4 separate regions of the Homo sapiens genome follow, and all the other regions are linked to region 4. The links come from fine-mapping of genetic effects on plasma protein levels. A gene starts in region 4. Each other region holds a variant in brackets. All regions are shown on one strand. Distances are from middle to middle.

Evidence for each region. PIP is the chance, under the fine-mapping model, that this variant and not a neighbour inherited with it causes the effect. Protein levels are from antibody-based Olink assays in UK Biobank. Linkage for the fine-mapping came from a reference panel and not from the study's own genotypes, which makes the PIPs less certain.
Region 1: its variant is fine-mapped to the plasma level of the PTPRS protein (UK Biobank, PIP above 0.99).
Region 2: its variant is fine-mapped to the plasma level of the PTPRS protein (UK Biobank, PIP 0.99).
Region 3: its variant is fine-mapped to the plasma level of the PTPRS protein (UK Biobank, PIP above 0.99).

Annotation. Positions count from the first base shown.
Region 1 is chr19:5,293,951-5,302,091 of GRCh38, reverse strand. All of the region lies in intron 1 of PTPRS (protein tyrosine phosphatase receptor type S), which reads left to right. It overlaps LOC105372253 (a long non-coding RNA gene), which reads right to left. Exons shown (of 2, transcript NR_187754.1): 2 at 7,409-7,945. Among named protein-coding and RNA genes, the nearest start is that of PTPRS, 43 kb to the left of the region's middle. RefSeq lists enhancers at 372-872, 3,393-3,893, 6,306-6,922, 6,923-7,540. The variant C/T (reference allele first, on the strand shown) is at 4,639.
Region 2 is chr19:5,286,540-5,293,037 of GRCh38, reverse strand. The region is part of intron 1 of PTPRS (protein tyrosine phosphatase receptor type S); the gene reads left to right. Among named protein-coding and RNA genes, the nearest start is that of PTPRS, 51 kb to the left of the region's middle. RefSeq lists a silencer at 1-44. The variant G/C (reference allele first, on the strand shown) is at 3,414.
Region 3 is chr19:5,268,679-5,276,819 of GRCh38, reverse strand. It overlaps PTPRS (protein tyrosine phosphatase receptor type S), which reads left to right. Exons shown (of 38, transcript NM_002850.4): 3 at 2,476-2,621; 4 at 3,237-3,378. Among named protein-coding and RNA genes, the nearest start is that of PTPRS, 68 kb to the left of the region's middle. RefSeq lists an enhancer at 7,408-7,908. The variant A/G (reference allele first, on the strand shown) is at 4,771.
Region 4 is chr19:5,337,770-5,345,910 of GRCh38, reverse strand. PTPRS (protein tyrosine phosphatase receptor type S) reads left to right here and starts at 5,099. Exons shown (of 38, transcript NM_002850.4): 1 at 5,099-5,247. LOC105372252 (a long non-coding RNA gene) reads right to left here. Exons shown (of 5, transcript XR_936279.3): 5 at 7,845-8,141. RefSeq lists a silencer at 4,892-5,171 and an enhancer at 7,038-7,711.

The sequences.
Region 1 (8,141 bases), 44 kb after region 4:
TAAATCGGGGGGCCAAGTGTGGTGGCTCACACCTGTAATCCTAGCACTTCGGAGGGCCAAGGCAAGGCGGATCATTTGAGGTCAGGAGTTCAAGACCAGCCTTGCCAACATGGTGAAACCCCGTCTCTACTAAAAATACAGAAATTAGCTGGGTGTGGTGGCATGTACCTGTAACCCCAGCTACTCAGGAGGCTGAAGTGGGAGAATCACTTGAACCCAGGAAGCGGAGGTTGCAGTGAGCTGAGATTGCCGCGCTACACTCCAGCCTGAGCGACAGAGTGAGACTCCATCCATCATCCAATCAATGGGGGGTATTGGGACATGGCAGAGTCATGAGCAAGGAGGGGAGGATTGGGGGGAGACTGTGATCACCCTTCCTGGGGACTGGTGGGTGTAGAGGGGGAGGATGCGCTTGAAGGAGAGACCAGCAGGCATCTTGCAGAGAGGATGTGGCCAGATCCATTAAATGCATTTACAGCCAGGTGTGGAGGCTCATGCATGTAATCCTGGCACTTTGGGAGGCTGAGGCGAGTGGATCACCTGAGGTCAGGAGTTCAAGACCAGCCTGACCAATATGGTGAAACCCTGTCTCTACTAAAAATACAAAAAATAGCCAAGCATGGTGGTGGGCACCTGTAATCCCAGCTAATCGGGAGGCTGAGGCAGGAGAATCGATTGAACCTGGGAGGCAGAGGGTGCAGGGAGCCGAGATGGTGCCACTGTACTCCAGCCTGGGTGACAGAGCGAGACTCTGTCTCAAAAAAAAAAAAAAAACAGCAACAACTTTAATACACTTGACGCTGGCTCAAGGTGGGAGACGGCCTGGCAGGGGCCCAGGCTGGCAATGGGGCCTGGCGGGGGGACCGGCCATTCTGTCCCTCCCCCGTCCTCCACTTTTGGCTGAGTCAGCATGTTGGCGCTGCAGAGCTGACTCCGGCTGTGGCCTGGAAGCCTTTTCCAAGTTTCTGCCCTTGGGGCTGGAGCAAGAGCTCCCAGAGGATGCTTTGCTGGCCAGCCAGGGAGATCCAGGTTCAAAGCCCAGCAATGTGGCTTTTGCTTTCTGGCTTTCCATGTCACTATGTTGGAAATGTAGAGTTTGGATACCCTAACGTGGCTGCCCAGGGAGTGAGAGTGGCCAGGGTACTGTGGCTGCAGATGGCACCTGCTGACCTCTGTGCTATTGGCCAGCACCTCTAGTCTCTGCAAGGCCTCTGAGCCATTGATGTCTTCACTCTTTCATGTCTATATTTTTTATGGAAATTTTTTTGTTATATATATTTTACCGCTTTTTCTTTCTTTTCTTTTCTTTTTTTTTTTTTTTTTTGAGACGGAGTCTTGTTCTATCACCCAGGCTGGAGTGCAGTGGCACAATTTCAGCTTACTGCAACCTCTGCCTCTTGGGCTCAAGCAATCCTGCCTCAGCCTCCCAAGTAGCTGGGATTACAGGCATGCACCACCATGCCCGGCTAATTTTGGTATTTTTTGGTGAGATGGGGTCTCACTATATTGCCCAGGCTGGTCTCAAAAACCCAGGCTCAAGTCATCTGTCCACCTCGGCCTCCCAAAGTGTTGGGATTACAGGTGTAAGCCACCACACCCGCCCCACTTCTTCATTTAGAAAGCATTTATTGAGCATATACTGTGTACTCGACCCTGGCAGTGACCAAGACTGACCTGGCCCCTTTGTTGCTGGGAGAGCTGGCCACAGAACTTTCTGCAGTGATGGAAGTGTGCTATGTGGGTTTCAGTACTCTGACCATGAGCCACACTGGAAATGTGGCCGGTGTGACTTGAGGAGCAGAATTTTAAATTTTATTTAATTTTTCTTTTTCTTTTCTTTTTTTTTTTTTTGAGATGGAGTCTCGCCCCGTTGCCCAGGCTGTAGTGCTGTGGCATGATCTCACGTCACTGCAGTGTCCACCTCCTGGGTTCTAGCAATTCTCATGCCTCAGCCTCCCATGTAGCTAAGGCTACAGGTGTGCACCACCACACTCAGCTAATTTTTGTGTTTTTAGTAGAGATGGGGTTTTGCCATGTTGTCCAGGCTGGTCTCAAACTCCTGGCATCAAGCAATCCACCCACTTTGGCCTCCCAAAATGCTGGGATTACAGGTGGGAGCCATGGCACCCGGCCTATTTAATTTTTCTTCATTTAAGTTTAATGAGTCACATGTGGCTAGTGGTCCTTTTTCTTTTTCTTTTCCTTTATTTTATTTTATTTCGAAGCAGAGTTTCACTCTTGTTGCCCAGGCTGGAGTGCAATGGCGCGATCTCAGCTCACTGCAACCTCCGCCTCCCAGGTTCAAGCGATTCTCCTGCCTCAGCCCCGAGTAGCTGGGATTACAGGTGCGCACCACCATGCCCGGCTAATTTTTGTATTTTTAGTAGAGATGGGGTTTCACCGTGTTGGCCAGGTTGGTCTCAAACTCCTGACCTCAGAAGATCCACCCATCTTGGCCTCCCAAAGTGCTAGGATTACAGGCGTGAGCCACCACACCCAGCCACTAGTGGTTCTTGTATTTGATAACTCAGACCCAGACAGTGAGTAAAGACAGAGAATTTCAGGTGACAGTAAAATAATGGGTAATGGGTGATGGGTGCTGCTTGAGCCAGGTGGTCAGCCAGGGCATTTCTGAGGAGGTGATCCTTGAGGGAGAATGGAAGGGTGAGAAGAAAAGTGACAAGAAAATGTAGAGGAACAGTGTTCCAGGCAGAGGCATAGCCTGTGCAAAGGCCCTGAGGCAGGACTGCACTTGGGGTGCTGGAGGAACAGCGAGGAGGCCCATGTAGCTGGAGCAGAGTGAGGGGGAGAGAGGGAGGAATGGAGGGCAGGGAGGAGATGGAGCAGGTCATGCAGGGCCTTGTGGGCCACCAGGAGGACTTGGGCTTTGACCCTGAGGGAGGTGGGAGCCATGGAGGGCTGTGGGCAGAGGAGGGACGGGACCTGACTCAGGTGCACACCGGCACCATGTAGTGGGTGCTGTGGGGAGGACAGACTGGAGGGCGAGGGTGGGAGGCTGGGGACCAGGGCAGAGGTGACTGTGCTGGTCCGAGCAGGCAATGATCAGGCTGGATGGGTTGGGAAGGGAATATGGAGAAAGATGGACAAAGTGAGTAGAAATTTAGGAGACAAACGTGAGAGTATTTCCAGACCAACACCATATGGGGTGAGGGAGGAAAAGCAGTGAGGGCCAGCTTCCAGGTTCTAGCCTGAGCCCCTGGAAGGACAGAGCTGCTATCAGCAGAGTTGGGGAAGACATGGGAGGAATGGCTTTGCTGGATCCAGCCATGCCTGAAGGTGTCACACATTTTCCAGGAAGGGGAAGGTAGCCTGGCCTGCGGGGGCGGACAGGTGAAAAAGGCAGACATGGAGCTGGGGCGTGCCTGTGGTGGGCATCATGCCCGCTGCGGTGCGGCTGGCGGGTAGACCCGGCGCCAGGGCTGTGATGTGAACATGGGTGAGGCGGGCTCCTGGCTGGTTGGCACCCGCCCATGCCCCGGGTCATGAATGCTGTGCTAGGTAGGAGGCGGGAGCCTTGGGCATGGGCAAGACCAGGGCAGGGAAGCTGAGAGGAAGCTGCCCAACCAGTTTCTCTCTGGCTCTCACAGCCAAGAGTACAGAGTTTGTACCTAAATGAAATGTCTGGGGGTTTTGGTGCCAAATATGAAGGAGGTGGGACAGACAGGCTGGGGGAGGGGGTCCTGCCCCGGTCAAGGGTATGGTTTTATCTGAGGGTTCCCCATCAGGGAAGGTTTAAAGGCTTGAGAACATCCCAATGCAGTCACCCCTGCTTTGGAAGTTTCTTCAGGAGACGAAGGGACACAGCTGTGTCTAAGAATGTCCCTCACAGTGTTGTTTATAAGGGACATAATGGGATAAACAAGTGGGAATTGATTAAATTCTGTGACCCGGACACTGGAACATGGTCTGCTAATGGTGATCCCCATCGAACGAAAGAAAAGCACCCATTCGTATGCATAGAAGAAAGACTGGAAGGAGGCCGGGCGCTGTGGCTCACGCCTGTAATCCCAACACTTTGGGAGGCCGAGGCGGGCGGATCATGAGGTCAGGAGTTTGAGACCAGTCTGGCCAACATAGTGAAACCCTGTCTCTACTAAAAATACCCAAAAAATTAGCCGGGCGTGGTGGTGTGCGCCTGTAATCCCAGCTACTCAGGAGGCTGAGGCAGGAGAATTGTGTGAACCCGGGAGGCAGAGGTTGCAGTGAGCCGAGATCGTGCCACTGCACTCCAGCCTGGGCGATGGAACGAGACTCTGTCTCAAAAAAAAAAAAAAAAAAAGAAAAGAAAAGAAAGACTGGAAGGAAATGGTTAGCCTCAGGGCCATCGTATTTGCTGTTCCTCCTGCCTGCAACTCTGTTGTCATAGGTGTTTGTATGTCTGATTTGCTCTCTTCCTCCAGGTGTAAATGCAATTATCACCACTTCTAAGAGGCTCCCCCAGGGACCCCCCAGTTTTTGCAGCCTTGCAGTGTGGTTTATTTAATTATTTTTGGCATCTCTTAGCACTGCCCGGCCTTATGTTATTGACAGTGTTTGTTTTTCTGTGGGTGTCCATCCCCCCTGCAACTAGTCTGTGCCCCCCAACAGGGGCAGGAGTGCTGGTTCCATCATGCTTAC[C/T]ACTGTGTCCTCAGCACAGCACACAGTAGGTGCTCAGCACATGTACAGGGAAAGAATGAATGAGAACGGCCGCATGAAACAGTTTCTCTCTAGGCGAGGGATGGATTGTGGGTAACTTTTATTTTCTTCTTTATGCTGATTTTACCTAATTTTCTGCTGCACGCGCCTATTTTATAATTAGAAGAAAAGTTATTTTGAAAAAAATTACCCCCCAACGTCCCAGCTGTGGGAGCTGACGTGATCCAGCCCCGTGTTCCTCCCCAAGGGCAGCCGCCTCCTGGGTGTATACAGAGGACATATCAATGGAACGTTTTTGGAGGGGTCCAGGGGTCAGCCCCCAAGGGCACGGAGTAGGCGGGGCAATCAGGGAGGGCTTCCTGGAGGTGGCCACCCTTAACCTTTAGGGTGCTCAGGCCAAAAACCCAGAAGTCATCCTTGAGTCCCCTCTTTTCTGTACATCCCCAAATGAGCCGTTTAGAAAATTCTATTGGGTCTGCCTAGAATGTGCCTTTCTCCCTCATCCTCTACCCAGTCCAGCCCCAGCCTAGTCATCCCCCACAGTCTGCCCTCCCCACAGCAGCTGAGCATGTCTGTGAGTACCTGAGTCAGGGCCTTCCTCTACCCACAGCCCTCCATGGCTCCCACCTTCCTCAGGGTCAAAGCCCAATTCCTCCTGGAGGCCTCTGAGGCCGTGCGCATCTTGTCCCCATTCCTTCCCTCCCCTCCCTCCCCTCCCCTCCTCTTTGTCTCCCCTTCCTCACTCTGCTCCAGCAACACTGGCCTCCTCGCCATTCCTCCAACACGCCAGGTGCAGTGCTGCCCCGGGGCCTTTGCATGGACTGAGCTCTCTGCCTGGAATCCTCTTTCACTTTCTCTCACCTTCTCCTGGTCTTTGTTCGCATGTCACCTCCCCTCTCTCCTATCCTGTGTTTATTTTATTTTACATTTTTTTAGAGATAGAGTCTCGCTCTGTCGCCCAGGCTGGACTGCAGTGGCACCATCCTAGCTCACTGCAGCCTCAACTTCCTGGCCTCAAGCGATGCTTCCGCCCTCAGCCTCCCAAGTAGCTGGAACCACAGTCATGCGCCACCAGGCCCAGCTAATTTTTAAAAGTTTTTGTAGAGATGATGGGCTATATTGCCCAGGCTGGTCTCAAACTCCTGGCCTCAGGCGATCCTCCCTCCTCATCCTACAACCCTGAACCCAATCATCCTCAGGGCCCTTACCACCATCTGACCCACAGTGGATTTGATTTCTTTTGTTTCTCATGTGTCACCCTCTTTAGAGCATCCACACCCTGAGGGCAGGGATCTTTGTCAGTCTTGGTCACTGTGTGTCTAGGATTGTGCCTGGCATCGGGGCTTGGAAATGTTTGTTTAGAAAAGGGTAGGCTGGGCTTAACCTTATTACGGGCTCATGTCTGTGATCCCAGCACTTTGGGAGGCTGAGGCAGGAGGTTCACTTGAGTCTAGGAGTTCGAGACCAGTCGGGGCAACATGGGGAGATCCCATGTCTACAAAAAAATCCAAAAATTAGCCAGACGTGGTGGCATGTGCCTGTAGTCCAAGCTACTCAGGAGGCTGAGGTGGGAGGATCACTTGAGCCCAGGAGGTTGAGCCCAGGAGGTTGAGGCTAGAGTGAGCCATGATGGTGCCACTGCACTCCAGCCTGAGCAACAGAGCGAGACCCTGTCTTGAAAAAAGGGTAGGTGAAGATGCCTGCTTTATGACAAGGGCACACACAGTGTGGCCTTTGGAGGAGAATAAGGTCGGAGGGGCTCTCCTGGGTGAGGCTGGGCCTGATTGTGCAAATGTTTGCTGAGAACCTCCTTTGTACTGTGGACCTGTGCTAGGTGCTGGGGACACTGGGTGACCGAGACAAATCCTGCTCTGCCTCCTGAGGTCACAGTCTGGTGGGAGAGGCAGACCCGGGGACTAGGCGCATGTAGGGCTCTGTGCTGATGGGGCCACCCAGCCAAGGGGGAGGGCACCTGGCCCACCTCCCCCAGCCCCTCGGGGGTGGCTGTGTCCCCTGCCAACTGCAGTCACCACTGTGGAATAGGGGCAAGAGTCTGCCTCCACAGAGACATGGACAAGAGGCCCAGAGAGGGCAGGACTGGCTGGGAAGCGGCTGGCAAGCCCTTGTCTGCCGTCCCGAGTCCTGGGCAGCCCAGAGCCAGGCCTGTATGCTGCAGGTCATGCAGCCCCAAGCCTCCTGACAGTGTGGATTCATTGAGCACCTGTTCAGTGCTTGGCTTATGTGGCAGATGGGGAAACTGTCGGCCCGAGAGGTACGGGTGCTTTCTTGACACACGGGGCATCCCTGGATTCAAACTCGAGTCTGTATGAGCCCCGTGCCTTGCCACAGATACAAGCAAGGTGCCTACTCTGCTCCTGAGGGCCCACTGTGTGCCCAGCCAAGTTGGGGAGGTCACGCTGGTTGCTCCTACGCCTACATTGACACAGGGAACCTCCTGTGTGCCTTTGGTGATGCTGGGGCACCAGGCAGCCTCCTCCATGAAGCACCTACTGTGTACCTCGTCGAGGATGGGGCTGCGTGGGACGGGGGACGTCACGGCATCCTGTGTTTAGCACCTCCTGTGTGCTCTGTGTCAAAGGGGCAGGCAGGGAGCCTGTGTGCAGACACTCACAGACCACCTACTGTGCATGGTGCTTTGTGGACTAGGCCACCTATTGTTGGAGATGGGGCGGGGCGATTCCATGCTCCATTTTGCAGAGGAGGGAAACTGAGGCATGGTAAGGGAAGGGGGCAGTGTGGTATCCCCCAGTGAGGGAGGCATTTATTCGATGTTTGAAGGAGATGGGAGCCAGCCACTGAGGTAGCAGTGGGAGGGCATGGACGGGAGCCGTGGGAGCGGAATTGTTTCTGCTGGGCTCTCACAGCCGCCTGTGTGTCTCCCATCAAAGCCCACGTCCTTTGCCCCACTGAGTAATGGCTTCTAGAGAGTGGGGCGTCTGTCTTCAGGATGGCCCTGTACCTAGATAAACCCAAGGGGCTTGAAATTATTCATGATATATCCTCAGTTCCGGGGGCCCCAGGCCTCCAGCAGCGCTGTGGTGAGAGCTCCTCCTCTGGACCCAAACCCTGGTTCCAATTCCTGCTCTTCCCGGCCGTGGGCAGCCGTTTCTCTCTCTTTCTCGGCTCCGTTCTTTGCAGAATGGGGGTGATGGTGGGGTCTGCCTCCTAGAGCCGTGGCCGGTGGCCTGAGGAAGCACAGCTGATGGCAGCTGAGCGCCCAGGACATCCCGTTGGCGTTGGCGTTCGGGCTTCGTCCTCAGCGCGAATGCTGGGAAGAGAGGCGTTTTTTCCAGGGATGGGAGCAGACGCGGGAGCCCTTGGGTCTCCATCCCGGCCTCTGCCCCTGTCCCGTCCCCAGACCCCCAGGTCCCGCTGGGCTTCTACATTCCGGGCCCCTCCGGTGGAGTTTTCAAACCCGCACCCCGGGCGCAACGCTGGCTCGGATTGGCCGCCCGGACAGGTCT
Region 2 (6,498 bases), 52 kb after region 4:
GTCCCCACAGCCCAGCGCGGGCCTGACCGTGCCGGCCGCCCTCCAGGGCCAGCTTGGGCCTGCTGCTGCCTGGCGCCCCCCCATTCAGGCCCGTCGCTTGCACTTTGGAAAACTCCAGACCGTTATGCTCCGCAGGGTCCCCTCCCCCGCCTGGCCCCCAGCCCGACCTCCTCCCCCCACCCCCTCTCCTCCCCCACCTCCCGGGGGCGGAGCCAGGCGCGGGGCAGCCTTCGCTGCCAGCCCGGGGGAGCTGTGACTGGGGACTTCGCAGAAGGCGGAGGAGGCAACAGGACCGCAGAGGGGGCAGGTAGCGGTGGGGGGTGCATGGCAGGAATCCCTGCTCTTAGCCACCCCCGAAAATCGCAGGAAGTTTACCTCCATCCATTTGTTTCCGCTCCTCTCGGGCCTGTGGACCCCACGTTGCCTCTGTGCTTTGTTGGGGGGCTTTAAGAAACTGGGGGGCTTGGCCTCAGGGAGGGGCCTGTGGTGTTGTCTTCTGAGACGGTCAGGGCAGCTCGTACCTTTCTTTTACCCATTCCCGTCCCTGGGCTCTAAGCCGTTCCAGGACCCAAGTACTGAGCTGACAGAGTTTGGTGACCCTCCCCAAGGGGCTTCCTGCAGAACCCAGGCTGGCCTCAGCTGTCTGTTCCTTCCAGAGCCTCACCCCCACCCTTTAAGTCTCTGCCAGACCCCCTAGGGTGGATGCGAGGCTGTCCCCGTCTCGGTCTCCATTGCCTGGGGTGGTCTCTGTCTATGGTCTCAGTTTCTACCTCTGAAACCCAGGTGACGCCAGGGATGCTGTGGATAAAGTGCCAGGTGGAGCTGGTTATGCAGCAGGCATCCAGTGCATGCAGGGGCTTTGCCACGTTCCTGGGGTGGGAAAAGGGCTTCCATCCAGGGGGTTGACAGACCCACAGTGGGAGCACAGCTGTGATGGGGTAGCTCAGAATGGGTCTTGATCCACCCTGGGGCATCCAGGAGGGCTTCTTGGAAGAGGTGACAGCTCAGCTGAGCCCTGAGGACAAGTATGAGGGCTGAGATTTGATGAGGATGTGAAAGGGTATGCTGGGTGGAAGGAACAGTGTGTGTAAATACCCCTGTGGGAGCCAGGGGCCACAAGTGGGGGGGATCAAGGTGTCAAGGGAAGCCTGGCATGGGGGGTTGTGGCGTGATGAGGTCAGCAGAGGCCGGGCTGGCAGCTCTGGAGGCTGAGGTAGCAGTCTGAGTTTTAATACGTGTTGATGGGAGCCATGGAGGGTTTTAGAGCAGAGGAGGAACGGGGCTCAGCTTGGAGTGGAGGCATCTCGTGGCTGCAGCTTACAGGATGAACTGACCATGGGCCAGCTGGGGAAGGGTGTGCCAGGTGGGGGACCTGCATGCGAAGAGGCTCAGAGACCTGAGGCAGTGTATTCTGAGAACTGCAGGACCTTTCGGGAAGAGGGGGTAGGGAAGACGATGGATGCAGTCACATCAAGAAGGGCCCAGAGCAGCGAGCACAGGAGCTGGGAGCCCCCGTGGGTGTGTGAGCAGAAGCAGGGGTACCCCCAGATCTTGGCGTCTCAAGTTGTTCCATGAAGCCAGCATGGGGGACACACTGACGGGCAATTTTGGCAGCCTGGGCGCCCAGAGGATGTGGACTCTGGGCTCGACTGAGAGCCGGGCTCTGGCCTCAAATCCTAACCCAGCCCAGCCCCCTCCTCCATGCAGGACCCTTGGTGAGCCTCGGTTTCCTAATCCGTTAAACAGCAGAAAACACAGAGAACATTTAATGGGGCTCAGCACCCCAGAGGCACCCAGTGGACTTTAATGATTTCCCTCTCCAGGGCTGGGCCTGGTTCCCTGTCTGCCCCACCCATCCACTCCTGGCCACCAGGACCCCTGGGGACAGTGCCCTGAGCCTTCACGTCGTCCCAATACAAATCAATAGTCAATTAAAGCCAGGTCCCCGGACTTCAGTTCCGGGAAGGGCCAGCCCCACCCAGCCCCTCCCTGAGCCCATTTCCTGATAGGGAGATAATGGCGCCCTGGGAGGGACAGTGGCTTGGCCAGAGCTGACTTGAGCCCACCAGTGGCCACAGAGCCTGTGCTTGCTGCCCAGGGGGGCCCTCGCTGCCTGTCCCTGCTTGAGTGGATGTGGGAGTGACCCAGGTGTCCAGGGAGGCTGGAGGCCAGGGTCCAGTCCTGGAAATGACGTTCCAGGCGGTGGCACGGGAGAGCTGTGGGTGGGGGGTGGATGTGAAGGTGGAGAGATTGTGCAGGGTCAGGGGTCTTTCCCCTGAGTCCCACTGCTGGCATAATCAGCCTCAGCTTCTCCTGCCCTGGGGCCATGGGATGGCCCCTGAGGGTTAGGACTAGGCCCCCAGACTCCCGCCCCAGGACAGGGCAGCATGGACTCTACAGCTGGAGCCTGGGCTGGGAGAGGCACCGGGAGCCTCCTCTGGCCCGAGGAGCCCCCGCCTCGTGCGGGTGACACAGCCTGTTTGCTGCCCGGCCTGGGTCATAATCACCCCTTTATGCTTCCTGGACCGCGTGGGCACACAAAGCCGGCTCCCAGATCGCGTGACCCATGCCCCGGCGCCTGGTTGGAATGAGTGCCCACTCGCCCCCCATTAGCACCGCGGGGGAGCCCCCAGAGGCGGCCAGCGGGCTCTACCAGTCCCAGAGAGAGTTGTCCAGAGATCTCGCAGTGGCCAGAGAAAGACACAGTCACAAGATTAAACGTGGGCTCTAGACCCAAGTCCCACCCCAGCTGGGGGCCTTGGCTGAGTCCCTGTTTTTCTGTGAGCCTCAGTTTCCTCATCTGTAAAAGTCAAGCGCCTGCCTCTGACCAGCTGCCGTGAGCTAGTGGTGGGCAGTGCAGCCCCTGAGAGCCAGGTGGGGCGGGCAGAGACCCTCCCTGAGCCCCACATGGGTTCAGCGTCCAGCGGTCACTCCCTCTCCTTCTCCCTAGCCCTGGCTCAGCCTCGCTGGCCACCATGGGCTGCCATGCTTTTCCTAACAGCCGTGTCATTTACTGGGAGCTTGCAGATTACTGCACCTGACTTAATTTCCCTTTCTTGGCAGTGGCAAGGCTGGTGGCCCAGGCTGCCTTTTGCAAGAGGACATGGTGGAGGGTTGGCCTGGCACCAACCTGGCCATTTCCCTCCCTGCCCAGGGCCACGTAGGGCTCCTGGCTGCTCTGTGGGTCTAGTCTATGTGCACCTCTCTGTCCTCATCTCTCCCCCTCTCCCTCCTAGGACCTCTCAGTGCTGCCCCCTTGCTCTTCCTCATGCTGTTTGTAGTGCAGAGACACCCTTGCCCCCAATTCCCATTCACCTTTTGGTCCTCAGCCAATATTAAATCCAGGAATGGCCCACGCAAAGGCCCGGGGGCAGGACTGGACTGCACTTGGGGTGTTGGAGAAATAGCAAGGA[G/C]GCCCATGCGGCTGGAGCAGAGGGAGGAGGGGGAGAAAGGGAGGAGGGGAGGGCACGGAGGGGACAGGGCAGGTCGTGCAGGACCTGGTGGGCCTCAGGAAGGACTTGGGCTTTGACCCCGAGGCAGGTGGGAGCCATGGAGGGCTGTGGGCAGAGGAAGGACGAGCCCTGACTCGGGTGCTTGCAGATGCTTTCTGGTTTCTGTGAGTGGAACAGATCAAGGGACAAGGGCGGGAGCTGGGAGACCACGATGGAGGTGACGACATCTGTCCAGGTCGGTGACAATGGGGCTGGAAGAAGTGGAGGCAGAAGAATGAGTAAGAAGTGGGCAGGTTGGGGACAGATTCTGAAGGCAGAGCTGATGGGACCTAGGGATCTTCTCTCCCAAATCCTCGCAGAGGACCTCACGCCTGGGGTTTTCGTGGAAGCAGGAGTCGGTGGGAGGATTGTGGGTGTGCAGGGTCCTATCCCCATCATGGGAGGTTCTCCTAGGGAGGATTGGCACCTAAGGGACCCCGGGATGTTTTGTCTTTGGTAGTGTCTGAACCCCACTCCCTGGGCCCCTCCCACCACCCTATTCCTGATACATCATCCAATGCCCCAAATGCTCCTGTTACTGTAGCCCCTCGTCCCTGCCCCTGACAGGCTGGAGTGGCGGATCTGGGGGGAGTCCATGGCCAGGCCCTGCCTGTCTGTGCCTGACTCAGCCCCATCCTGCGCAGACATCAGGGAGGTGTGGGCCCAACATGGCTTCTGCCGTGGGAGCCAGGGTGTAATTAGGGCTGCCTGGTTTAGAAGGTGGCTGATGCTGCCCTGAGGTCCTCGTGGGATGTGGGAGAGCCAGCTGTGGCTGGGGCCCTCCATATATGTGCCCCACCTGGGCTCTCTGTGCAAGTGACTCCTACCCATGCCCTCTGAGCTTCAGGTTTGCTATGCTGCCTCAGTTTCCCCAGAGGCTCTCTGCAGGCCTGCCCAGCTGCTCAAAGTGGTCTGGGACTGACCTCGCCCCCTCAGTGTGGCCAAGCAGATGTGCATTTCTGGGCAGGGCCAGCCGCTGTGGTCACCCTAGCCCCAGCTGGCCACAGGCTGTTTTCTCCATCTGGGGCCACCGCCTTCCTCGTTGGCAACTTTTGCTCTTAAAGGGCTAGGGCAGGGACTCAGAGTAAGGGACTGTGCTCTAGGCTTTATTTCCTTCATCTTCCCAGTCCCCAACTGGTTGTGTGCAAGGTGTACCTAGAGTCTGACTGTGTGTGTGCATGTCTGTGTAGCCTGCCTGTGTGCACATATGTGTGTAGGAAGGGAATCTGACTTTGCATATCTCTATTTGGCTGGCTGGCACATGCACCTGTGGTCTGCTGACTGACTGGCCTATCTATAGTCTGACAGTGTGCCGGCACCTGTGTCTGCGTGTGACTTTGACCGGCTTGTGCACCTGTAGGTATCTCTGATCTAATTGCATGTTTGCAGTTCCCTGTAACCCAACTGTGTATGTGTACTGCCTGCCCCACCATGACCCCTTATGTGTATCTTTTCTGGCTTGGTGTATGTCTGTGGTCTGATTTTGGGCCTGTCTGTGTTTGTGGTCTGACTATGTGCAAGTTTTATTTGCCTGATTGTGTGTGTGTGTGTGTGTGTGTGTGTGTGTGTGTGTGTGTGTGTGCCCGTCTCTGCTGCCTGACTGTGTGAATGCATTTGTTTCTGTGTCTCTTGCAGATATGCAACCGCTTGCAGTCTGACTGTGTGTCGGTGTGTATCGGTGGTTTGACTGTGTGCATCTGTGTATGTCTGTGGCGTGATTTAGCAGGCATCGTTCTCTGTGGCTGGTCTGACTGTATGCCTGTGGCCTAACTATGTACACTGAGGCCCCCCGAATCCCGTTCGTCACCCTAGGCTGTGACCCGGCCACTACCCGCCCATCCTTCCCCTGGGACCGCCCCAGGGCTGGGCGAGGTGACCGCAGCTGGGTATTTTGGGAGTCAGAATCACAGGGGCTGCCCCGTTATTATGCGCCACCAGTTCCTGTGGTCACGGCCTGGACCCGCCCAGGGCATGGGCTGGCATGGGTGCCAGCCTGACTAGGCAACAAAGATCTTATCCTTGGGCCTCTCCCTTCCCCTCCCTGGCCCTCTGACCTGGCTCTGGACAGAGTGGAGATTGGGGAGATGGGGAGGGGGCCATTCCAGGGTTCAAGGTATGTGACGAGGGACCCTTCTGCCCTGGAGGAGTTGAGGTTCTTGTGGGAGAAACGTGCTGAATGATTAACATCTTTTCATTTAGTTTGGGAACCAGGGTGAATACCACGGAGGATAACCTTAGTCATATCTGATGCTCCGGGATGTAGAATGTAGGGGGAATTGACCTTTGAGGGGCAGAGAAGGGTTTCCTGAGGAAGTGACAGCTAAGCTGAGACCTGTCATGTGGTGGGGACAGCATTCCAGGCAGAGGGCACAGCAGAAGCAAAGGCTTGGAGGTGGGACTGAGCTTGGCTGGCCTGGCTGTACCTCCAAGCGAGAGGAAACAGTGAAGTCAGCAAGAGTGGCTTCCCCTGGGGGCTCTGGGAGCCATGGGAGGTCTTAGAGCAGGGCAGGGACAGGCAGGTGTGTGGAAGAGATTTGTCTTATAACCTGGGGGATCAGGTTTTAGAGCCAGACAGCAGCATAGTCTGGAGTCCCCTCCTTCCTGAGAAGCAGCCTGTGAGTTGGAGAAAACTGGGGCTCAGCACCCCTCAGTCCTGGTGTGGGGCTTGGTCTGAGTCAGGGGCTCAGGTCCTCAGTCCTGGTGTGGGGCTTGGTCTGAGTCAGGGGCCCAGCCTGGGTTGGGGACTCATGCTGGGGTTGGGGTTTAGCTGGTGGTTGGAGGCTGTCTTAGTCCATTTGGGCTGCTGTAGCCAAATACCACAGACCAAGTGGCTTATAAATGACAGAAATTGGTACCTCACAGTTCTAGAGGCTGGGAAGTCCAAGATCAAGGCAACACAGATTTGGTGTCTGGTGAGGGCTATCTTCTGGTTCGTGGAAGGCATCTTCTCCCTGTGTCCTCACGTGGCAGAAAGGGCAAGGGAGCTTTCTGGGAGATCCTTTATGAC
Region 3 (8,141 bases), 69 kb after region 4:
CTGTAATCCCAGCACTTTGGGAGACTGAGGCGGGCGGATCACGAGGTCAGGAGATCGAGACCATCCTGGCTAACACGGTGAAACCCCCATCTCTACTAAAAATACAAAAAAATTAGCTGGGCATGGTGGCGGGCATCTGTAGTCCCAGCTCCTTGGGAGGCTGAGGAAGGAGAATGGTGTGAACCTGGGAGGCGGAGCTTGAAGTGAGCCGAGATCGCACCACTGCACTCCAGCCTGGGCAACAGAGTGAGATTCTGTCTCAAAAAAAACAAAAACAAAAAAAAAACACGTACTCCAGGCCAGGCGCAGTGGCTCACACCTGTAATCCCAGCACTTTGGGAGGCCAAGGTAGGTGGATCACTTGAGGTCAGGAGTTCAAGACCACCCTGGCCAACATGGTGAAACCCCATCTCTACTAAAAATACAAAAATTAGCCAGGCGTGGTGGTGCGTGCCTGTAATCCCAGCTACTTAGGAGTTAGAGGTAGGAGAATCACTTGAACCTGGGAGGCGGAGGTTGCATTGAGCCGAGATGGCACCACTGCACTCTGGCCTGGTGACAGAGCAACACTTCATCTCAAAAAACAAAAACAAAAACAAAAACACTCCTACTCCAGGCTTTATTGCAGAGACTGAATGAATACATCAGATCGTCATGGAGGGTGAAGAATGTGGATGTGAAAGCCAGGCTGGTTCAAAGGAGCACGTTCAGCTCAGCCACCGCCTGGCTGTGCATGTCCAGCCAAAGCAAGTCCCTTGCCTGGTTTGTGTCTCAGTTTCCTCACATGTAAAATGGGGATGGCAGAGCTGGGTATGGTGGTTGACGCCTATAAATCCAGCAGCTTGGGAGGCTGAAGTGGGAGGATTGCTCGAGGCTAGGAGTTTGAGACCAGGCTGGACAACATAGCTACTTGGGAGGCCAAGGTGGGAGGATCACTTGAGGCCAGGAGTTCCAGACCAGCCTGGGCAACATAGTGAGACCCCAGGCTGGTTTTTGTTTTTGTTTTTGTTTTTTGAGACGGAGTCTCACTCTGTCGCCCAGGTTGAAGTGTGGTGCCATGATCTTGGCTCACTGCAGCCTCCATCTCCCAGGTTCAAGCAATTCTTCTGCCTCAGCCTGCCAAGTAGTTGGGATTACAGGTGCCCACCACTATGTCTGGCTAATGTTTGTTTCCTTAGTAGAGACGGGGTTTCACCATGTTGGTCAGGCTGGTCTCGAACTGCTGACCTCAGGTGATCCTCCGGCCTCAGCCTCCCAAAGTGCTGGGGTTACAGATGTGATGGCCTTCACCTGTAGTCCCAGCTACTTGGGAGGCCAAGGTGGGAGGATTGCTTGAGCCTGGGAGGTCTAGGCTGCAGTGAGCCAAGACCGTGCCACTGCACTCCAGCCTGGGTGACAGAGTGAATCCCTATCTCTCAGGAAAAAAAAAAAGAAAAGAAAAAGAAAAGAAGGCTGGGTGCAGCGGCTCATGCCTGTAATCCCAGCACTTTGGGAGGCGAAGGCAGGCAGATCATGAGGTCAGGAGACCGAGACCATCCTGGTTAACATGGTAAAGCCCCATCTCTACTAAAAATACAAAAAGTTAGCCGGGCATGGTGGTGGGCACCTGTAGTCCCAGCTACTCGGGAGGCTGAGGCAGGAGAATCGCTTGAACCTGAGAGGCAGAAGTTGCAGTGAGCCGAGATCACACCACTGTACTCCAGCTTGGGCGACAGAGTGAGACACTGTCTGGAAAAAAAAAAAAAAGAAAAGAAAATGACGATCAGGATGGCACTGCCTCTCCATGCTGTTGGAGAGGTTAAATATTAAATATTACTTCCCCTTTCTGAGCTCCTGCCTCCAGCTCAGAGCACTCTCCTGGGCACTGACCCCTCGTGTCCAGCCACCTCCTGGATGCCTCCCAAGAAGCTGGAGCTCTGGGTTCAAATACTGGCTCTGACCTCATGTCCCATGGTCACCCCCCGCCCCCATGCTGGGTGCCTCAGTTTCCCCACATGTCTCACCAGGAAATTAGACCAAGTTATTCTGGCAAGTGCTTTCAGGGCCCTCCAGGGTTTGGCTGGTCACCATGGAGGGGGGGTTCAGGTGCTGAATTTAGGGACCCCAGCATCTCACAGGTTTCCCCTTCCATCTTTCCCAGTGGCACTGTGTCTGAGCAGGTGTGCCCAGGTGAGGTTGTATCCACTGTGTCTGAGCAGGTGTGCCCAGGTGAGGTTGTATCCACTGTGTGTGAGCAGGTGTGGCTGTTGCAGGTGGAAGTGGGGATATGTGGGCACCTGGGTGCCCATGGGTGCCGTGGTGGGGGGCGAGGTGGGAGGGTGTTTGTTGTCATCCTTGCTTTCCTCCTCCTCTCTTCATTGGCCACATGGCACTTCCGTGGGCAGGGCATGGAATGCAGGTTTTCGTGGCTCCTTGGTATCCTAGCCAGATGCCTGGACCCATCAGCGCCCCCCCTTCTTTCCACTGTATCCCCAGAGCCCCCCAGGTTTATCAAAGAACCCAAGGACCAGATCGGCGTGTCGGGGGGTGTGGCCTCTTTCGTGTGTCAGGCCACGGGTGACCCCAAGCCACGAGTGACCTGGAACAAGAAGGGCAAGAAGGTCAACTCTCAGCGCTTTGAGGTGAGTTGGGGTAGGGGGAGGCAGCCTGGGGTCAATGCTCCCCCAAGGCAGGGCCACAGCACCTCAGCCACAGTGGACTTCGTGGACACGTTCCCCAGGTGGAGCATCATCTGTGGCCAAGCAAGCATGGCTGCGCAGCCTCCAGCCAGGGCCCTGCCCGCCTTACTTGCTCTACCAGCTCCATGCTGTGTGGCCTCAAGCAAAGCCCTGCCCTCTCTGAGTCTTCTTCACAGTGCAGTGTACACAGCACCACTGCACACAGAAGGAACTTTACAACTCTCAATACACGCCCATGATCACACGTGCACATTGACACATTCCGCATGTCTTCACATGCCTTTGCATGCCTGTCACATGGGCTTGCAGACATTTGTCACCCTCACACATGCACACAACACCCTGTTCTTATATGTACCCAAATCTGGTCCCTGTCTGCGGCGCATTTATACTGGACACCGACACACGTGCACATTCAGCCTGCAGCAATTCTCCCAGTCACCCCCAGGATCATGGGGCTGACTGCCATTCCCCTACAGCCCAGCCTAGCCCAGCCTAGACAGGAACCTTCCTGGGACCCCAGCCTCACTCTGTTCTTTTTTCCCCTGCCCATGGCAGACGATTGAGTTTGATGAGAGTGCAGGGGCAGTGCTGAGGATCCAGCCGCTGAGGACACCGCGGGATGAAAACGTGTACGAGTGTGTGGCCCAGAACTCGGTTGGGGAGATCACAGTCCATGCCAAGCTTACTGTCCTCCGAGGTATTGGGCTCCTCAGGGCGGGCGGAGGATAAACTGGGCCCTGGGCTTTGGGGACAAGCACAAAAGGAATACATGAAAGTTACCCCAAACCCTCCTGCTTTGTGTTTTTTGGGAGGACCTTGATCTCCCTTATCCAACCAGTAACAGTCTCAGGGCCCAGCGCCTACTGGTGGGGATTTATTGTGCCTTTGCAAGAAAGAAAGGAATTGAGAGACTAGAATCATCCTAATTTATAATCTTCATCATGTGCTTCTGATGACAAAAGGCTGATCCAACTCAGATGGGTTCAAGCGAGAAAGGTAATTGATGTGCAGAATTAAAATTCCATGGAGTGGCTGGCTTCAGGTTCAGCTGGATCCAGGGGCTCATTGAATTTTCTCAGAGCTCACTCTCTGTCTCTTGGCTTTGTTTCCTTCTGTATTGATGATATCCTTAGTGAGACTTCCCCCACTGCCAATGAACTTGGATCCCATTCCCTTCCCTGAACTAATCACTGTGGCTCAGGAGGAACAAACACTCTGATTGGCTAGACTCCTACCTGGAGCCAAGAGTGAGTGTGGTTCCCCCAAAGGAATAAAGATAAACAGGGTTGGGCATGGTGGCTCACACCTGCAATCCCAGCACTTTGGGAGGCTGAGGTGGGAGGATCACACGTGAGACTAGACTGGGCAACATAGCGAGACCCCATCTCTACAAAAAATAAAGGATGAACGGATGCTAGGTAGGCAGAAACTGCTGCCCCACTTCCCCAGACATTCACACGGGCCTGCAGTGCTGCTTGCTGGTCTTGTTTAGGTGCAATTCTTTTTTTTTTTTTTTTTTTTTTTTTTTTTTTTTTTTTTTTTTGAGACAGTCTTGCTTTGTTGCGCTGGCCAGAGTACAGTGGCATTATCTCAGCTCACTGCAACCTCCACCTCCCAGGTTCAAGCGATTCTCCTGCCTCAGCCTCCCAAGTAGCTGGGATTACAGGCACATGCCACCACGCCCAGCTAATTTTTGTATTTTTAGTAGAGACAGGGTTTCACCATGTTGGCCAGGGTGGTCTCAAACTCCTGACCTCAAGTGATCCGCCTGCCTCAGCCTCCCAAAGTGCTGGGATTACAGGCATAAGCCACTGCATGCAGCCTAAATGCATTTCTTGAACAAGTCGCAAGGGGTTTATAGGGGGCTGTCTGAGTGATGCTGTTTTATAATGAGGAAGCAATTTTGTGAACAAATTTTTGTTCAGCATCATTTCAAACAGCCGCCTACAAACCCTTGCCCAACCACTCTGTGCTGCCTTCTCCACTGCAGTTTGGTCTTAGCACTGGGCCCAGCCTGTGGAGCTCAAGTCCTGGCTGCCACTTGGTTGCTGTGTGACCTAGGGCAGGTTAATGAACTTGTCTGAGCTGC[A/G]ATTTTCTCATCTCTAAAGTCGGGCTGAGTACAGGGACTCAAACATCTGTAATCCCAGCACTTTGGGAGGCCGAGGCGGGTGAATCACCTGAGGTCAAGGAGTTCAAGACCAGCCTGGCCAACATGGTAAAAGCCCGTCTCTACTAAAAATACAAAAATTAGGTGGGTGAGGTGACGTGCACCTGTAATCCCAGCTGCTCAGGAGGCTGAGGCAGGAGAGTTGCTTGAACCCAAGAGGCGGAGGTTGCAGTGAGCTGAGATCACACCATTGCACTCCAGCCTGGGCGACAAGAGCGAAACTCTGTCTCAAAATAAATGAATGAATGAATGAATGAATGAATAAAAATGAAATGGCTGGGCGCGGTAGCTCACGCCGGTAATCCCAGCACTTTGGGAGGCCAAGGCGGGCAGATCGCGAGGTCAGGACTTAGAGACCAGCCTGGCCAACATGGTGAAACCCTGTCTGTACTAAAAATACAAAAATTAGCTGAACGTGATGGTGGGCACCTGTAATCCCAGCTATTCGGGAGGCTGAGGCAGGAGAGGATCGTTTGAACCTGGGAGGTGGAGGTTGCAGTGAGCCGAGATCACGCCATCGCACTCCAGTCTGGGCGACCAGGGCAAGACTCCGTCTCAGGGAAAAAAAAAAAAAAAAAATCGGGTAATAATGGTTCTCACCACAAGGGGTAATTCCGTGAACCAGATGAGTGAGTGATACAGGGAGCAAGATTAGCACAATGCCATATTTGGTCAATTCTACTTCCCCGTTACTGTGTTCATCACTGTTAGGATTCTGGTTTAGTAAGATGCTTGTTACCAATCCTTCTGCAGCCCTCAGGTGAGTGGGTTCCACCTGTCACCTGCAGAGACATCCCAGTCATGTATATGAGCCACTGCCAGCCATTAGCTGGGAGGTGACCCCTGCATGTGGCTTCCCAAGATGAGGCTATTCCAATGTCCTCCACGGCAGCCCAGCTGTGACCAGCTTGGAGCCCTGGGAGGGGTTATCACAGCGGCCCTAGTAGTACTCGATTTCAGACTCTGGTCCCATGAAACTGGGACTGGCATCACAGGCGAGTGACCTGTACAGTCATCCAGGATCCCTCCCTCAGGCCCTGTGCTTTGGCCTGTAATCCCAGCAGTTTGGGAGGCCGAGGCAAGTGGACAACTTGAGGTCAGGAGTTTGAGACCAGCCTGGCCAACATGGTGAAACCCCAAATCTACTAAAAATACAAAAATTAGCCAGGCATGGTGGTGTGCACCTGTCATCCTAGCTCCCGGATTCTTGGGAGGCTGAGGTAGGAGGATTGCTTGAACCCGGGAGGCGGAGGCTGCAGTGAGCTGAGATTGCGCCACTGTACTCCAGCCTGGGTGACACAGGGAGACTCCATCTCAAAAGAAAAAAAAGAAAGGCCCCGTGCTTTTTAAAGCTCTGCTGCTGGCCACATGCCGTGGCTCACACCTGTAATGCCAACACTTCGGGAGGCCAAGTCAAGAGGATCACTTGAGCCCAGGAGTTTGAGACTAGTCTGGGCAACATAGAGACCCCATGCCTCACTGTCCAAGTCTCTACAAAAAGAAAAATGTAAAACTTAGCCTGGTGTAATGGGGCCTGCCTATAGTCCCAAGTACTTAGGAGGCTGAGGCAGGAGGATCGCCTGAGCCTCGGAGTTCAAGGCTACAGTGGGCTATGATCATGCTACTGCACCCCAGTCTGGGTGACAGAGCAAGACCCTGTCTCTAAAAGGGGGGTGGGGGGGAGGGGGAAGAAAAGATAAAAGCTCGCTATTGTGGTCTGGAAAGTCTTAATACTTTTCTAACAAGAGACCCCACAATTTCATTTGCGTGGGTCCTGGATCCCATCCTGCTGGGGGATGGAGGAAGGAGCGGGGGCGGAGTCAGGCCCACCGTGGCCCGCCCTGCTCTTCCTAGCAGATAATTTTGCCCTGACCTTTCCCAGGCTGGGACAGAACAACCTGCCTTCTCTTGCCCCAAGCCAGCCTGCACTCTGAGCACTCAGGGTATTAAAAGGACAAGCTGTGAAGCCATCAACTGCCCGGTCCCCCGGAGTCTGGGAAAAAAATGCCCCCTGCGCCCATCCACACTCTTTTTTTTTTTTTTTTTTTTTGAGATGGAGTTTTGCTCTTGTTACCCAGGCTGGAGTGCAATGGCGTGATCTTGGCTCACTGCAACCTCCGCCTCCTGGGTTCAGGCAATTCTCCTGGCTCAGCCTCCTGAGTAGCTGGGACTATAGGCGCCCACTAGCACGCCCAGCTAATTTTTGTATTTTTAGTAGACACAGTGTTTCGCCATGTTGGTCAGACTGGTCTTGAACTCCTGACCTCAGGTGATCCACCTCCTCAGCCTCCCAAAGTGCTGGGATTATAGGCGTCAGCCACCGTGCCGAGCCCACACCCTTTTTCTCTCTCCTCTCCGGCTGCCTGGAAGGGCCTGCTTGGGCTGGGAGCTCATTCTTCCTGCTGGGGCCCGGGGCCTTGGATACCCTGACCCGATCCCACCCACCTTGCCACCAGCCCTGAGCTCCGGGCACCTCCGGCCAGTCCCTGGCAGTTGGTGGGGGACCATCTGGACTGCCAGGGCCACTCCCTGCCTTCCTCCTCCTCTGCCATCTGATTGTGGACCCCACACACGCCTCCTGCACTGTTGTTTTAATTAAACTCCGAGGAACTGGGCAGAGTGTGGTTCGCGATGTACGTTTTTGTTTAATTAGGTGTTCTCGGTAGCGTCAGGCGGCCGAGACCTCCCCCTGCACCCTGGCTGGCTGCTGTCCACACACGCTTATGGGGACCCCTGCGGGGCCACATACACACGGGAATTGCTCACGTGTGGACACGTGGGCACGGGCAAGCGTGAGCACATACATGCGGCACACATGTACCCACGCATGAATGAAATACAGGGTTCCCTCGTAGGCACACGAGCATGCATAGACACACAGGGGGATGCCGACAGACCCAGCTGTGGGCACCAAGACCAATTGAGTGAGGCCCAGTCATTTTGGCCCTCATCTCCGATGATGTCATCAGTAGCCAATCAGAGCCACTTTCAAGGTCGTCCAGGTCCCTGGCCCAGGAAGGATGGACAAGAGGCCTGAACTGCCTCAGACGGCATCCAGCCATGCCCCCTTCAGGGCCCCGATGGGTTCAGACCTGGTTGAGTGGAGGGCTTTTGCAGCCGGTCCTGCTCAGCTTCTTCTGAGCTCAGCCAGGCCTGGGTTCAAATCCTTGCTACATGCTGGCTGTATGACCTGGGACAAGTGTGTGACTGCCTGTGCCTCCGTTTCCCCCTCTATGGAAAAGGCTTGGAGGAGATCACAGGTTCCGTTGCCTGCGCTGCGCCTGGGATGCTGT
Region 4 (8,141 bases):
AGGGGGAGGTGGGAGGGTCATTTAAGCCCAGGAGTTCGAGACCAGGCTGGGTAACACAGGGAGAGCCTGTCTCTACAAAAAATTTAAAAATTAGCCAGGTGTAGTGGTCTGTGCCTTTCGTCCCAGCTACCTGGGTAGCTGAGCTGGGAGGATCACTTGAGCCCCAAGAGGTTGAGACTGCAGTGAGCTGTGATTGTGCCATTGCACTCCAGCCTGGGTAACAGAGTGAGGCCCTGTCTTGGAAAAAAAAAAAAAAGAATTTTATAATTTTCTGTTCTTGTTGTATCGACTTGTAGGATCATCTTTTGTTTCTGGCTAGGCAACCATAGTTTTCTCATTTACAGTGACCGCATTTTTTTTTTTTTCTTTAGACGGACTTTGTTTCTTATTGCCCAGGCTGGAGTGCAATGGCGCGATCTCGGCTTACTGCAACCTCTGCCCACCAGTTTCAAGCGATTCTTCTGCCCCAGCCTCCCAAGTAGCTGGGATTATAGGCACCCGCCACCACGCCTGGCTAATTTTTTTGTATTTTTAGTAGACACAGGGTTTCGCCATGTTGGCCAGGCTGGTCTCGAAGTCCTGGCCTCAGGTGATCTGCCCACCTCGGCCTCCCAAAGTGCTAGGATGACAGACGTGGGCCACCGCGCCCAGCCTACAGTGACCACACTTACCAGAAATCCTTTTGTGAGTCTGCACCTGGTGGCAGGTGGTTGACATAGTGTGATTCATTTCACCCTCCAGACAGCCCTAAGGGACCAATATTATTTATTTTTTATTTTTTATTTTTTTGAGACGGACTCTTGCTCTGTCGCCCAGGCAGGAGTGCAGTGGTGTGATCTCAGTTCACTGCAAGCTCCACCTCCCGGGTTCACGCCATTCTCCTGCCTCAGCCTCCCGAGTAGCTGGGACTACAGGCACCTGCCACCTCGCCCGCTAATTTTTTGTATTTTTAGTAGAGATGGGGTTTCACCATGTTAGCTAGGATGGTCTCGATCTCCTGACCTCCTGATCCGCCCGCCTCGGCCTCCCAAAGTGCTGGGATTATAGGCGTGAGCCACCACGCCCGGCAGGGACCACGATTATTATTATCCCCATTTACAGACAGGCAAACTGAGGCACAGCTAGAGTAGGGAGACACGCAGGAAACACACAAACCGGCCAAAATATAAAATCATTCCAAATCATGATAAATAATCTGATACTGAAGTAAAGATGATCATGTGGTCACCTCAGTGAGATGGTCTGGGAGGGTCTCCCAGAGACTCGAAGAGCAAGGAGGAACAATTGGCCTTGAGAAAAGCAGGAGGAACAGCATCCTGGTCAGAGGGAACAGACAGTGCAAAGGCTCTGTGGCAGGACCTTACCTGGTGTGTTGGAGGCACAGCAAGGAGGCCCGAGTGGCGGGAGCAGAGTGAGCGAGGGTGACAGAGGGCGGGGAAGGGGGTAGGTTATGCAGAGCTTGGTGAGCTGTGGGAAGAGCTTAAGCTTTTACTCTAAATAAGATATTTCCTATCTCCTCCCAGCACTGTTGACTCCAGGAATTTTTGCTCTGTTGCCCAGGCTGGAGTGCAGTGGCGTGCTTAGAGTTCACTGCAGCCTCAAACTCTCACATCCAAGCGATCCTCCTACCTCAACCTCCCAGGTAGCTGGGATCACAGATGTGTACCACCATGCCCAGCTAACTTCTAAAACTTTTTGTAAAGACGGGGTCTCCCTATGTTGCCCAGGCTAGTCCCAAATACCTGGGCTCAAGCCATCCTCCCGCCTCAGCCTCCTAAAGTGCTGGGCCAAAGTGCCTGGCCAACTCCAGGGATTTTAAAGACTGTTTTGTTTACTTCTGTTGTCCACAGCACTTCAAACAACCTGGGAGCGGGGCCGGATGCATGGCCTGAACAGATGGGTTTCCCAAGCACATGCTGGAATGTATTTTTTTTTTTTTTTGAGACAAAGTCTCACTCTGTTGCCAGGCTGGAGTGCAGTGGCGCTCAGCTCACTTACAACATCTGCCTCCCGGGTAGAAGCGATTCTCCTGCCTTCTGAGTAACTGGGACTACAGGCACGCGCCACCACGCCCAGCTAATTTCTGTATTTTTAGTAGAGATGGGGTTTCACCATGTTAGCCAGGCTGGTCTCAAACTCCTGAGCTCAGGCAATCCACCTGCCTTGGCTTCCCAAAGTGCTGGGATTACAGGCGTGAGCCACCGCACCTGGCCAACGTATTTTTTGTTTGAGAGGGAGTCTCACTCTGTTGCCCAGCTGGAGTGCAGTGGTGTGATCTCAGCTCACTGCAACCTCTGCCTCCCAGGTTCAAGCAATTCTCCTGCCTCAGCCTCATGAGTAGCTGGGACTACAGGCATGCACCATCACACCTGGCTAATTTTTGTATTTTTAGCAGAGACAGGGTTTTGCCATGTTGGCCAGGCTGGTCTCGAACTCCTGACCTCAGGTGATCCACCCGCCCTGGCCTCTCAAAGTGCTGGGATTACTGGCATGAGCCACCGCGCCCAGCTGCTACAATGTATTTTAATTCTGTTTTTGATGTATTTAATCTGTTTTCTTTGACTGCTCACAAAATCCCTCAGAGGTACTAGTGGTTGTCCCCCTTTTCTAGATGGGGACAGCTAGGCTTACAGTGTTGCGGCCACTTGTTTGAGGTCACCTCCCAAACAGGTCACTGGGCTGGGGTTCGTGCCATGATCAGCCCCTCCACGATCAGCCATCTCATTTTACTGTGTCTCCACCAATTCTCCAAGGCTTCAGCACCCACTGTGCGTGAGAAACCACGCTAAGCATTTGTGCACAGACCACCCCATTTGATCCTTCAAGATGGGATCGTGTTCCCATTGCTTGGATGAGAAAACTGAGGCCAGATTGTAAACGGTCAGATCAGGGTCACCCCACCAGGAAGAAAAACAAAGTAGGCTCTGCAAACGTGGCTGCTGCACTGGCCGCTGGGAAACTCCAAGCTTAAATTAGGTTCCTTGTTAAATTATTCATTATCTCCTCTCTTTTCTCCTGTTTATGACTTCCGCCTTATCGTTTTGTTCCCCGGGTTAATGCTTTTTGTTTATCTGCATCTGTGGCCTGGAATGAATGAATCAACAATTTTGGAGGAAAAAAAAAACCAATTCTAAAGTTGAGTTCCTCTGTTGGGCACCAGGCCTTCTCCAAATATGTGCCTTGAGGAAATAAATGCTTTCGACATGATCAAAACACAAGGACTGATGTGCAATCTTGCTTGGTGGCTGTGAGCCCTCCAACCCCCTTACCTTTGTCAATATCCCCCTTTTATTTACTTCCGCTCTGTTTTTTTTCCTTATTTTTGAGAGTCTCACTCTGTCGCCCAGGCTAGAGTGTGCAGTGGTGTGATATTGGTTCACTGCAACCTCCGCCTCCCGGGTTCAAGAGTTTCTCCTGCCTCAGCCTCCCAACTAGCTGAGACTACAGGCACCTGCCACCACGCTCGGCTAATTTTTGTATTTTTAGTAGAGATGGGGTTTCGCCATGTCGGCCAGCCTGGTCTCGAACTCCTGACAAGTGATCTGCCCACCTTGGCTTCCCAAAGTGCTGGGATTACAGGCATGAGTCACCGGGCCCGGCCTCTTTTCTCTTATTATTCCATCTTCAGGCACCAATGGCAGCCAGGCTGCCACATTATAGCAATTCATCATCACACCCTCCTTAGGAGCAGGGGCTACCTTGCCCCATTTTACAGATGAGAGCTGAGATCCAGAGGCAAATCCATTCTACAGATGGGGAAAGTGAGGCTCCGGGCCTCACACAGCAAATCAGTGTTTTAGCTGGGTTCCAACTGTGGCTCGTCCTGACTCCAGGGAAGCAGGGGATGGTAATTAGGTGAGACCTGTGTAAAGTGCTTACTCTATAAGAAGTGCTCCATCATCCATTCATTCATGTGTTCAACCTACAATAGGGATCTCTGGAGCCACACTGTAGTGTAACTAGAATAAAAACGGGATAATGGGACCAGGCGCGGTGGCTCACGCCTGTAATCCCAGCACTTTGGGAGGCCGAGGTGGACGGATCACTGAGGTCAGGAGTTCAAGACCAGCCTGGCCAACATGGTGAAACACTGTCTCTAACAAAAATACAAAAATTAGCCAGGCGTGGTGACAGCACGCCTGTAATTCCAGCTACTCCGGAGGCTGAGACAGGAGAATAGCTTGAATCCAGGAGGCGGAGGTTACAGTGAGCCGCGATCACGCCACTGCATTCCAGCCTGGGCGACAGAGTGAGACTCCGACTCAAAACCAAACAAACAACAACAACAACAACAAACCGGGATAATGGGATAGAGTGGAGTGGGGCGTGGCTGGTAGCTGTTGTCAGGGAGGGCTTCTCCCAGGCGCTGCTTATTTGAGCAGAAATTGGAAAGATGAGAAGGGGAAGTTCTTGGATGCTCAAGTTAGAGGAACTGTAAGAAGCTGGCTGAGGCGGGAGGATCACCCGAGCCCAACTACTCAGGAGGCTGAGGCGGGAGGATCACCTGAGCCCAGGAGTTTGAAGCTGCAGTGAGCTATGATCATACCACTGTACTGAGGCCCAGGTGGCAGACCCCATCTCTGAAAAAGCAAAGAAGGAGCAGCTGGTTTTTCTGGATCATTGACATGGTGGGGGGGAGGGGACAGGGTAGTGGGCGCTAATGTGAAACGGCGAGCTGCAGAGAGGAGGCGGGATTTTATTCCAAGGGTACTGGGGAGCCGTGGCACAGTTTAGGGCAGCGCACAGAAAGTGCCATGCCCTTTGCACCCAGGACGCTGGGGCTCCCGCACGGACAGTAGCCCCAGGGGCCCTTCCCGCCGCCGCCGCAGCCGCCACCACCACCACCACCCCAGCCGCCCACGTGTCCCGCGAAGCCCCGCGCCCCACGTGCTCCCGCGGCCCTTTAAACACCCCGGAGCCACGTGACCGCGCTGCGCCGTCCCATTGGCCGGGGGGCGTGGCGGCCGCGCGGCTGCGCAGTGACGCGCACGGGCCGGCCCTGCCCCCGACCCGGCGGCGGCGGCGGCGGCGCTGGCGGAAGGGATGACGTCACCGGCTGGGGGGGCGCGCGAGCGGGAGCTAGGGGAGCGCGAGCCGCAGTGAGTGTCCTCGCGCCGCCCGCCCGGCAGCCCGGCCGGCGCGCGCACGCCGCGAGCCGCTGGCGCTCGGGCTCCGCTCGGATCCCATGCAACAGCCACGATGTGAAGCGGGGCAGAGCCGGGGGAGCCCAGCCCAGCCAGCCTCCAGGTAAAGCCAAAAAAAAAAATAAAATCATGGATTAGAGGAAAAAAAAATGCAGGCGCTCCAAGGGGGGTCTCGGAGGCAGCCGAGTGGGCAGCGCGCCGGCTTTGTGCCGGGGAAGCCTGCACGGCCATTGTGCTCGGAGGATGCTCGGCTGCAGCCAGTTGCACGCCCAGCCGCTGCGCCCCGGTAGCTGCGCCCGGACAATGCCCCGAGGGACAGGGCCGGGGCCGCGCTGGGGGCGCTCGGCAGGGGGTGCTGGGGGGGCTTCGTCCGCGGCGTGGGAGGGGGCTGGGCTGGAAGCGCCCAGAGCGCGGCATTGGAAGCTGCCCAGCGCCGCCGGCTGCACCACCCCGGGCTGCGGGCGGGGCAGAGGCGCGGAGGGGGGCGCGCGTGTGTGCGGAGCCGGTGCCGGCCCCGGCGGCGCCCGGCCCGGGTCCCCGGGCGGGTCCTGGAGGCAGGGGGCGCTGTGCCGGGGGATGGGGGGCATGCGGGCGCCCCGGAGCGGAGAGGAGCCGGGACGGGTGGCTCCAGGCGGGGTGGCTCCAGGGCTGCTGCGCCCGCCGCCTTCCCTCTCCGGGTCTCCCTCCCCTGGAGACCCCCTAGTCTACGCCGTCTCCCCTGGAACACTCCGGGCCCTGTCGTTGCCTTATGGGAGGTCGCCCCTCCGGCACTCGGGCATTGCCCCACCCTTCTGCGGCCTCGGCGCCCCCTTCCAGCCTCCCCACCCAGGGGCGAGCCTCAGCCCCCAGCCCCAGGGGCTCTGGCAGGCAGACGCGCACGCCCAGCACCCCAGTCTCCCCTCCGCGCTGGGGGCCCCGTGGGGATCCCGAGAGTGGGGAAGCCGCCCCTGGAACCGCCAGCCCCGCGGGTTCCGCACGCCCCGGGAGCCCCCGGGGGCTGCGGGGGGAGGGGAGGTGACGTCATACCGGGGGCGGGGCCGTCGGCACTGGGTTAAAGGGGGCGCGGGGCGTGCCCTGAGGGGAGCCCCCCAGGTTAGAGTGCCCGCGCCGTGGGTGCGAGGGTTCGGCCAGGTTGCGGCCAAGTTCACCTCTCTTTATGGGAATCTCTCCTAAAATTAAGATCCTCCCCTTCGGACCTCCCCCTACAAATCCTGGACATTTCCCACCAATTCCCCCCCTTCCCAAATTGGGGAACTCCCCTTCGGCCGCTTTCTCTCCAGAATCCTCAAATCAGGGAACCTTTCCCACAAACTGGGAATCTTTTTTTCAGCCACACCCCCCGCCCCAAATCTGGGACCTCCTTCTTCGGTTGACCCTCTTTCCCCAGTCTCAAATCGTCTTCTCGTCTCCCTAAATATGCAGCTTCCAAGAACGCCCCTTCCTCTGCAACCCTTCCTCAAATCCAGCCACCTCCTGGGACCTCATTCCCCCAAATTAACAAACCTCCCAGAGCCTCATTGGGGGTGCCTTGCCTCCCCCTTCTGGGCTCAGCTGGGATTCCCCTGTCCCCCCCCGTCACAATCTAGGGGAGCCCCCTTCTGAGCATGGGGTCCTCCTGCCTCTGGCCGAGACCCTAAAAACACATCCCGGCAGCCGCGGCTAGTGAAGCGGGTGTCCGAGGTGTCGGAGTCCCGGCTGAGCAGCAGGGATGATACCTAGAAGCCGGAGGAGGCAGGAAGAGACCCCTAGGGTCCCAAGGACAGGGACCCACACGCTCCGGGCTCCCGTCCGCCACCACCCGGACTTTGGCTGCTGGGATTCTGGCCTCCTCTGGGTGGCCCCCTATCGCTGCTGTCCTTGGGGTGCAGAGGGTGACGGCGCCTCTTTGTCTGGGGCGCCCTTCTTCCCTCTTTCTGCCGCCTTTCGCCCGGGAGAAGGAAGCCATCCCGCTCCTCTGCTCCTGCGATACCAGCGGCAGCTGCTGGAGCGTTTATTAATGGCCCAGGGACTTGGTCGAATCTGCCATTTGCATAAGTCCCCTCCCCCTCCCAGGGTCCCTTCCTTTGTGCCCCCCTCCCCCTGCCAATCGCGCCTGCCTTCTGTCCCTCTGCTCTTCTTTCTTTGCCAGCTGATATTTTGGCGGTGGAAGGCAGGCAGCTGGGGCTGGGGGCGGCTGCTTCCCGCCCTCAAATCCCACAGCCCCCCAGCTTGGGCCTGACTGAGTCCCCACCTGGGCATCCCTCCCCTACCCCCCCGCTGCCCTCCACAAAGCCTTCCGTGGGGCATCTCTTTCTGGCTGGCAGGCTGGCGGAGTCTTCATTATTTCCCTCCGGGAAGCAGGGTCCTGCCCTGTTCCCCAGGCCCGGGGGACACCCTCATCATGACGGTGCACTTCTGCATGGGGGCTAGGCCTCCCAGCCCCCTGGGGGCCACCGCCCGCCATACTCCATCATCCTGAGAGTTGTTCTAATTGGGCTCAGGCAAACAAAACGTCGCAGGAGACCCAGGCTGCCTGGTGAGCTCACGCACTTTTCTATTTCTGCCACCCTGGCCGATGACATTGCCCCTAACCCCCCAGGGGGTGACAGAGACTGGTACTGTCAGTGGCCGTCCAGAGATGCCGTCCCAAGAGGCGGTGGACTGGCCCGCTCCCCACTCCCCGCGGGAGATGGGTGACAGGTCATTTTGGCGTGGCCCGGCTGAGGCGCTGGAGGGTGCTACTGGTTGGCAGGTCAGCTCCGGGGACGATTTCCCCCTCTCCAGGAAACCTTGAGAGCCTCTGAAGTCTGCGTGAGGTGGCGACAGAGAAGGGGACATTCAAACCCCAGGTTCCTGCCTGCTGCCAGCAGAGAAAAAAAAATCACTCCTTATACCCCGGTTGAGCGTTCAGTGCGCCTTTTTTCCCTGCCTCCCAGGGGATTTCAGGCATCGTCCAGTGTCCATGGACCCTGCTTGGAGACACAAGTCCATTTTCCCCCAATTTCCACCATGGAACAG